Regions from separate parts of the Homo sapiens genome. Here region 1 is reported to be linked to region 2. Evidence: microRNA targets listed by miRTarBase, many of them from high-throughput screens and not tested one by one. Region 2 holds a microRNA gene; the other region holds the end of a gene's coding sequence.
Evidence for each region. Region 2 holds the annotated microRNA hsa-miR-3675-3p (CAUCUCUAAGGAACUCCCCCAA, at 3,172-3,193, shown strand). A microRNA usually pairs through its seed, bases 2 to 8, with sites in the 3' UTR of a target mRNA and lowers its output. Matches are read on the target gene's strand: a 7mer-m8 pairs with bases 2 to 8, a 7mer-A1 pairs with bases 2 to 7 and ends in A, and an 8mer does both.

Region 1: miRTarBase lists ZNF292 as a target of hsa-miR-3675-3p. Seed matches in the 3' UTR shown: 7mer-A1 at 3,710-3,716.

What each region holds. Positions count from the first base shown.
Region 1 is chr6:87,261,260-87,265,659 of GRCh38, forward strand. It overlaps ZNF292 (zinc finger protein 292), which reads left to right. Exons shown (of 8, transcript NM_015021.3): 8 at 1-4,400. The coding sequence ends at 542. Among named protein-coding and RNA genes, the nearest start is that of SMIM8, 59 kb to the right of the region's middle.
Region 2 is chr1:16,857,751-16,862,150 of GRCh38, reverse strand. MIR3675 (microRNA 3675) reads left to right here and starts at 3,130; the gene lies at 3,130-3,202. TRG-CCC1-2 (tRNA-Gly (anticodon CCC) 1-2) reads right to left here and starts at 230; the gene lies at 160-230. It also overlaps the pseudogene PDE4DIPP9 and the pseudogene TRV-CAC11-2.

The DNA.
Region 1 (4,400 bases), not on the chromosome of region 2:
AAAGGAAAGTTGAAAAAGCTGAACCAGCATCAGCAGCTGAGTTAAGTAGCGTGCGTAAAGAAGAAGAAACTGCTGTTGCCATTCAAACCATTGAGGAGCATCCTGCATCTTTTGACTGGAGCTCTTTTAAGCCAATGGGATTTGAAGTATCATTTCTGAAGTTTCTTGAGGAGTCTGCAGTGAAGCAGAAGAAAAATACTGACAAAGACCATCCGAATACTGGAAACAAAAAAGGATCCCATTCAAATTCAAGAAAAAATATTGATAAGACTGCTGTGACTAGTGGAAATCATGTATGTCCTTGTAAAGAAAGCGAAACGTTTGTACAGTTTGCCAATCCATCACAGCTTCAGTGCAGTGATAATGTAAAAATTGTTTTAGACAAGAATCTTAAAGATTGCACTGAGCTTGTCTTAAAGCAACTTCAGGAAATGAAACCTACCGTCAGTCTGAAAAAACTTGAAGTACATTCAAATGATCCAGATATGTCTGTTATGAAAGATATCAGTATAGGTAAAGCCACAGGCAGAGGTCAGTACTGATAATTAATGTAGTATAAATACATCATTTACCATTTTATTTTAAATAGGAAGCCATCAAGCATGCTAGAATTGTGAAACTTTCATTATATTTTTTTGTTGTTGACATGAATTAACCTGGCCAAAAACAAAAAAGAAAAAAAAAACATGACATTTGTCATGTAAAACTTTTTTTTATCCCTATGGGACTTGAGGAACAGAATCAGTACTTCAGTTATTGTAAATAGTGAGCTAAACCTCAAATTTCTATCACCCAGTTGCCCTTTTCATGAACTAAACAATTATCTGTGTGATTGGTATGTTTCACCAGGTCACTGCTCATGTATAACAGTACTCTTTATTTGTAGATACCTTTTTTGTATATATTTATTATTGTAAATCATGTGCTGCCACCAGCAGTCTGTAAGTCTAAACTATTAAATGACACATTTATATTTGGAATTTTAATTTTTAACTAAGCGATCAAGTTTTTTAAATTGTTCTTTTATTGTTTTAAATTAAGAACTTTTTGAACTAAAACCAGAAACTCTGCCATAGTTCATTGATTTTTACATGAAACATTTATTTACAAGATGATATCAAGATTACTTTTCACAAAATAGGCACATTATATCAACACTTTGCTCTGCTTTGTAAATTTGCCATCCAGGATTTTGGGGTGGTATTCATGTGAAATTAAAGCAGATTCTCTAGCAGTTTCCTATAGCTACAGTTTTTTTTTTTCATTGCTTCTAATTGGATATAGTTACTATGAGTCCATGAAATACAATGGAAATGTGAATAAAGAATTTACTACATTGAAGATTTTAAACATTTGGTATTAAAAAAAAATCCTTTGTGAATGTGATAGAAAACTAGTAGTGTGGAGCAGTGTAAATATTTGAGGTGGTGATTTGTGAAGTAGCCCAGTATTGCCTTAAATAAAATCACATTTCATTTCTTGTTTTATACATGTGATCTTATAAAGATTTTTTGTTTTGTTTTGTTTTCCATTTTCTGAGATTTATAGATTGGTGTATAGCTTTAAACTGTATAAAGTTTTGTGGAAAGATTTTTTTAAACATTTTTATAAATCTTAAAATTGATATCATCAAAGTGAGCCCATCTTGTGTTTATAAAATACAAGAGTCCTTAACATTTATAATTACATAGATAAAACACTTTCTATAAGGAAGTTGGATGTTTTGATTTTACTGTTTATAGATGTTAGATTGTACAGATTTGTCTGTATTTCTCACCATATCTAATGATACTTTTTTCATTAGATTGGTCTTCAAGAACAGTATTAGTTATAATTATTTTGGTTATTCAGTATATAGTTAGCTCTTACAGTTTAGCTTTATTCACCATATTTATACTGTGGATTCACAGCGAGAGGTAGAGGTTATTCCAGGAGAGTTGATGACCTTCATTTAAAGTCCAACTAAAATCAGTAGTAGAAACATAAGAAAACATCTTTGCAATATTTACTTTTGTTTCTGTTTGCCGTAAATAGTAACATTGTTTTTTTTTATTTTGTGTTTGTTATAAAACAGTTGCATTCACAATATTATTGGCCTGAGATATTGATGATATTGTGATGGTATGAAAATGTGTACATTCCCTGTGCAACATCAGATTTGCAGGAAAAATGAAGCACTTACTGAAATCGCTGGTACTCTGAATAAATAAGCATGGTCAAGGAGTGAACTATTTTCTTTTGGAAATTTCTTTTTAATTTTTATTATTAAAGTATTTTATTTTTAGGGCCTTTTGGGTTTTATTGAATAGTTCATTTCACCTGTTTAAGACTTACTACCAATAAGCATAAAACCTGACACGTTAAAATCCCTGCCCTTTGGTGAGCCCACTGTTATTTATTAAAATAAAAGTTATTTTATGGGTGATTAATACATGGGTTTTCTTTTTCCTAAATTAACAATAATTTAAATAACTGAGTAATTTTAATATTAAATTTTTGTTAACAACTGAATGTTTCCATACAGTTTTCTTAGAAATTGACCTAGCTCTTAAAGGTGGGCACTTGGCAAAACTGCCCTATATAGCACAGTAGCAAGTAGGTTTATTTCTGATCATTGTAACTATGAGCCACTGTTAAGTGAAAATGCCAATGTATTGGGGCTTTTCTTTTGCTCATTAGCTTAAGAAAATTTATAACTAGACATTTCTAATTGTTTTACATGTCATGGGGAAGAGTTTGCCAACATTTAATGAAATTTTTATATTCCAGGTAATGTATACTAAAGGTAATTATGAGAGTGGGCTTTTTAGCATGAAACAAAAAAAATCAAACTATGGTAAAAAGACATGAATTTATAGAATAGCATGTTGGTAAATTTTGATACGGAATGTAATGTCTAAGTATTAAAAAATCATAAAATATATTTTTTTCATGGTATACTTTTCCCCAGCCTATTGTCTTGAGATATCTTCTACAGCCTAAATTTGCTAAAGTTTCATCACTAAAAAGTAGGAGTTTTTCCTCTTCTGAACCCGCAAAGTTTGCATATTACAGGTCAGAATTGTATTATTCAAAATACATCACCTTAAGTGAAATGTAACAGTTTTTGAAATTTTCAACGGTGTTAAATTTAACATAGGTACATTATTATTTTAAAGGGCTAGACATATTTTTAAGGCAAATTTTTATCAAGTGAGCAGTCACAGTTGCTGTAGATAATATGAAAGTACAATAATACTATACCTAGGGACATCAGAAAGAATGCCCTATTTTTCTGGAAAAGGAGGTAGGTAGTTGGGAAAGTCTTTGTAGAAAATATGAGTTTTGAAAGATGAATGAATGCTCATTGGTTCAGGGGGACAAGGGAATTCCAGACTTGGGGGTAGAGCGTAATTGCGGTATTGCCAGTGGGCCACTTGGAAAGATAGGAAGTTGAAGAAGGTGAAGCTGAAGAAGCAGATGGGTGGTGGGATCAGGAGTGTTCTTGTATGCTGTATTAAGTCTTTATTTTGGTTTTTGAAAATTGTTATTGGATGCATGTATATTGAACAATTTAATCAGTATCAGTTTTAGAAAGATAATTGTCATGGTATAGTGGATAAATTGAGTAAGTTGGAGATTAATTAGGGGGACCTAAAATAGTCCAGGCAAAAAATGATGGGAGCCAGAAGAAAGGCTAACGAAGTTGGGGAAGAGACTAATGGATAAGAGAGATAATAAAAAGTAATGTCTAAGGCAGCCTGTTTCAGCATGTTTATTGTAGTGAGATACTAGGCAGGTGGAAGGTTATTGCTGTGATGAAATAAGTTTTCTAAATTGTGTGCTGTAGTTCTCTCTCTCTCTCTCTCTTTTTTTTTCTTTGTTTTTTTTGGAGACAGAGTCTCGCTCTGTTGCCCAGGCTGGAGTGCAGTGTTGCACGATCTCGGCTTACTGCAACTTCTGCCTCCCAAGTTCAAGTGATTCTCCTGCCTCAGCCTCCCCAGTAGCTGGGACTACAGATGCATGCTATCACACCCAGCTAATTTTGTAGTTTTGGCACAATCTCAGCTCAGTGCAACTTCCATCTCCCAGGTTCAAGTGATTCTCCTACCTCAGCCACCCAAGTAGGTGCACACCACCACACCTGGCTGATTTTATATTTTTAGTAGAGACGGTTTCACCATGTTGGCCAGGCTGGTCTTGAACTCCTGACCTCAGGTGATCACCCACCTCCACCTCCCAAAGTGCAGGTATTACAAGCATGAGCCACCACACCCAGCCTCTCTTAAATAATTTAATGCATGTTTGCATATTAAAGACAAAAGTTCTACTGTAAATATGTAAAAAGTTGAAAGGGAATTTTCCAGACTTAATTGACCCTGAGAACATTTTTCTTCTTTTAATGTTAATACTTAGTTATA
Region 2 (4,400 bases):
GAGTTAGTCTCCTGAATGTCTCCTGCCGCTACTTTCGTGAGTGTTGTCGTCACTTTACCTTGTGGTGGCCAAGCCCCTAAATGCACTATTAGGTTATGCAGTATGATTTTCAGCGTAAAAGACAGATAAAGAGCAACAGCGGGGTGAAAAAGACCCTTTTGCATTGGCCGGGAATTGAACCCGGGTCTCCCGCGTGGGAGGCGAGAATTCTACCACTGAACCACCAATGCCTCTGCGTAACTACCGCCTGGAGGATAACAGAAAAGAGTATCCACAAAGACTTAGAAACCGTTCCAAGCGGTTTTTTCAAGTGTCGACTAAAAGCTAACAAAGACATCCAAACCAAATGTGTTTTTACAGGAAACTTTTACTAGACAACGTTATAAATATCAAAATAGCTCATTTGTCGGATCAAACTCTTAACTCTGAAAAAGGTCCTTCTTTCTACCTGCATTACAAACCCCTATAATAAAACATCAGAAATTCATTCACGTTTCTTTTTTCTAATCCTAAATCTTCCATCGTCAACCTCAAACTGCTGCCTTAGAGGTTCTAAGAAGGTAACCTAACTGGTAGTTTAGGTAAGTAAAGTTCAAATCCAGGGAGGAAATCAGTAGCAGAAGCAGAATTAGAAGAAAGAGGAAATAAAAGGACAGAACCAAGGTAGAGAAAATGAAGAAATAAAGGTTGGTCCACTAAGTTAGTCTTTTGTCGCTGGTTTTTTTGGCAAAAGAGTAACGATCAGTCTCGTAATCATTATAATACTATTATTTGTCTGCTTGAAGATGTATAAAGCATTTGAAGGAAATGTGATATGAAAAGATGAAGAACGCTTGCCGTCAATGTTTCATTGTTTGGGAGAATCCCATTTCCTAAGTTAATATGCTTTGATGTATTAGCTATGTAAGGAGTAGACTAGTTTAAGGAAATATTGACGGTCAAATATTAGCATATTAGTCTTTTGATGAAGTTCAAATAGTAGAGAGATTTCTTTCCTCAATTTTCTCTGGAAACATTCAACTGAAGAGACAAATCCAGAGTTTTCTCCATATGTTGGGTCTGGGAGTCATTATGACTTTTTCAAAGACAGGAGCTGTGACATGGAATCATGCTTCTTCTCTAGCTGAGAAGCCAAGCTAGGTCCAGGCTGCGTCATAAACTTGAGCCCACCAAGGAAATCACCCTTCACATTGACCTCGCAGAGCTTTGGCTGTTCTCTGTTCTTTGCCCAACACCCAAGACACAAACCAGCTCTGGCCAACAAACCTTAACATATGATCTATATCCACCAGAGCTATATTTATTCCCAAATCTCCTTCTAAAATACAAACCTGTACTTTCTACTCTTAACTTCTAAATTTACAAAGGCCTCATATGCATCTCAGAGTCACAGATGCTAAAACTTAACCGGTTTTCTGAGGATTATTTGGGGAAGGGGTATGCATGCAAATGTATACACATAATTCATGTGATTTAGGAATATTGACTCTATGACTTCCAGATGCAGATTTAGAACCTTTTTAAAAAATATTTTGTTTTTGTTGTCTTGCAAATCAGCCAGATCTGCAACTTACCAGAGTAAAGCGAAGCCAAGCGGGACCCTTAGGAAATGCACTAAGATGTCATCCACTTTCAGTGTCAGCCTGTGAAAATACAGGCGATAGAAGAGAATGAAGAGAACCTGAAGGAATTTCTGGAACCAAAGCTAATATTAAGCAGGCCTCTTGCTGGCAGACCAGTGGAAACTGTAGCCTGGTCAACGATCTGTCTAGATTGAGGAGGTCTAAAGTGTAGCCACAGGTTCAACTACTTTTCTGTTTGTTTCCCAACCTCGATTAAACTCACTAAATTTAGGGACAAAAAAACAAAACAAAACACGATGTTCCCACGCAGTCTCGAACCAGAGACCTTTCATATGTGAAGCGAACATAATAACCACTACACCACAGAAACTGCATATACACCAAAAAAGGCAAAATATCATCATGAAAATCTTAGGTCAGCCATTTCTATTATCGTTTCCAAAGTAAGAAATTCAACTGCATTTCGAAATTCGACTGAAAAAAGCCCAATAAGCACCAGCCATCAAGAAGACTATGGCTCCCAATAGGCCCAGGCTTAGCGTTCCGCGCCCACCCCCAACACGAAAACCATGGGGACCCACACCCGGGCTTCGGGGACACATACCCGGGCTTCGGGCTCCCGCATCCTCCCCTGGGTATGCAGTTCCAGAACTAAGCGCCGTGTGCGGGATCCTCCCGGCTGACACTCTTCGGCTCCCAGAAGCTGCAGGAGCCGGCGGGCTTTGAGCGTCCGAGCCCTGGGCGCCCCGTGCCTCTCAGGAGGGTGGACGCCGCCCTTCCAGGGATGCGGACCCCGCCTCGGGGCCTTTTCCCCGGCGCCGGCCGTCGGGGCTCTTGGCTCTTCTCGTCCTCCCAGGAACCGTAGGACTCTCCTTGCCCTCCCTCCCGTAGGCCGAGGGGCGCGAGCTGCGCCTGTTTCCTCACGGACCCTTTGGCCTCAGCGCCTCGACGTCTTGCAATTGTTAGCTCACGGCTCTTCCTCCTATAACAAGGCCCTTCCATGTCATGTCCCCTACTCCCTCTTAGCACCAGAGAGATGCCGCCCCTGCCCCACAGGTCACATTCCATGAGTGGTGAAGTTTCTAGAGTTGTAACCATGGCATCTCCAGCCCTGTGTGTTCCTCTCCATGCTCCCCATTGAGCAGTCTTGATCCTGTATTAGCCCCAGGAAATGAAATAGAAACAGGACCCTACGTTAAAAAGTTGCAGTGGAGATGTGGTGGCCACCAGGGGCTGGAACTGTGGGGTGACTGAGAGTATCCAAAGCCCTGTGGCCAACCTACTGGTGCTGAGTGTGCTGGTGAGCCTCTCTGTCAGCTGGCTTCCCCGGGCCAGTTGCTCCCGGAAGCTCTGTCCCAGGTAGTAGTCAATGTCATTGCTCCTTAAGAGATCCTCAAAAGATTTTACTGTATCTTTTGCATGCTGGGTGAGAAGATAACAAACACCTCTCCCTTCTCGTATTTTTTGCCGTAGGTAAGACAGTTCCCGGGGCTGATCCTGAATCAGGGAATCATATTTCCTAATGCAGGACAGAAGAGGAAAGGGTGGATGATAAGTTATGGGGCTTCTGTAGAGATTTCTATGAGAACATCTCTAAGGAACTCCCCCAAACTGAATTCTGGCACGTAAGCCATAGGAGGTATTTAAGAGTAAATTCTACCCTGATAAATTATTGCACTAAAAATTTAGTATGGGCCGGGCGTGGTGACTGACGCCTGTAATCCCAGCACTTTGGGAGGCTGAGGCAGGCAGATCACAAGGTCAGAAGTTCGAGACCAGCCTGGCCAATATGGTGAAACCCCCTCCTCTACTAAAAACACACAAAAAAACTAGCTGGGCATGGTGGCACATGCCTGTAATCCCAGCTACTTGGGAGGCTGAGGGAGGAGAATTGCTTGAACCTGGGAGGGAGAGGTTGCAGTGAGCCGAGATGGCACCACTGCACTCCAGCCTGGGTGACAGAGTGAGACTCTGTATCAAAACAAAACAAAACAAAAAATTTACCATGCCACTGTTCTTCAACTGTTCTATATATGTTAATTATATGTCCCTAGATAAATCGTAAGGTCTGTGAGAATGAAGATAGTTCTGCGTTTCACATCCCTTACAGCACCAGCATCACAGAGATTCACAGCAGATACTCAATGAATAATTAGACTCATCTCATCCTAAGTCTAGATAGGACCTTTCATGTCTTCTGTTTTAACCACCACCTGATGTCTGAATTTCTTCTGTGTTGTGATACTGTGGCTGACTGTATTTTGCAATCATGGCCATCACATAAACTCTCATGCCATCAACTGATGAGACCCAAAACAAGAGACCCTAAGTGAGAGCCACCCAGCTGAGCCCAGTCAAACCACAGAACCATGAAGCATAATAAAGTACTGTTTGAAGTCACTAAGTTTTAGAGTGGTTCTTACTTAGCAGTAGATAACCAGGACGCATACCAAGATGAATGTCTGTGTTTTCAACACAAAGTGTCAATAACACTGATAACTATGGCAAATAGCATTGAGAGCTTAATGTATGCTGGGCACCATTCTAAGCACTTGTACTAATTTTTTTTTTTTTTTGAGACAGAGTCTTGCTCTGTCACCCAGGCTGGGGTGCAGTGGTACCATCTCGGCTCACTGCATCCTCCACTTCCCAGGTTCAAGCGATTCTCCTGCCTCAGCCTCCTGAGTAGCTGGGATTACAGGGGTGCACCACCATGCCCACCTAATTTTTATATTTTTAGTAGAGACAGGGTTTCACCATGTTGGGTAGCCTGGTCTCGAACTCCTGACCTCGGGTGTTCTGCCCACCTCAGCCTCC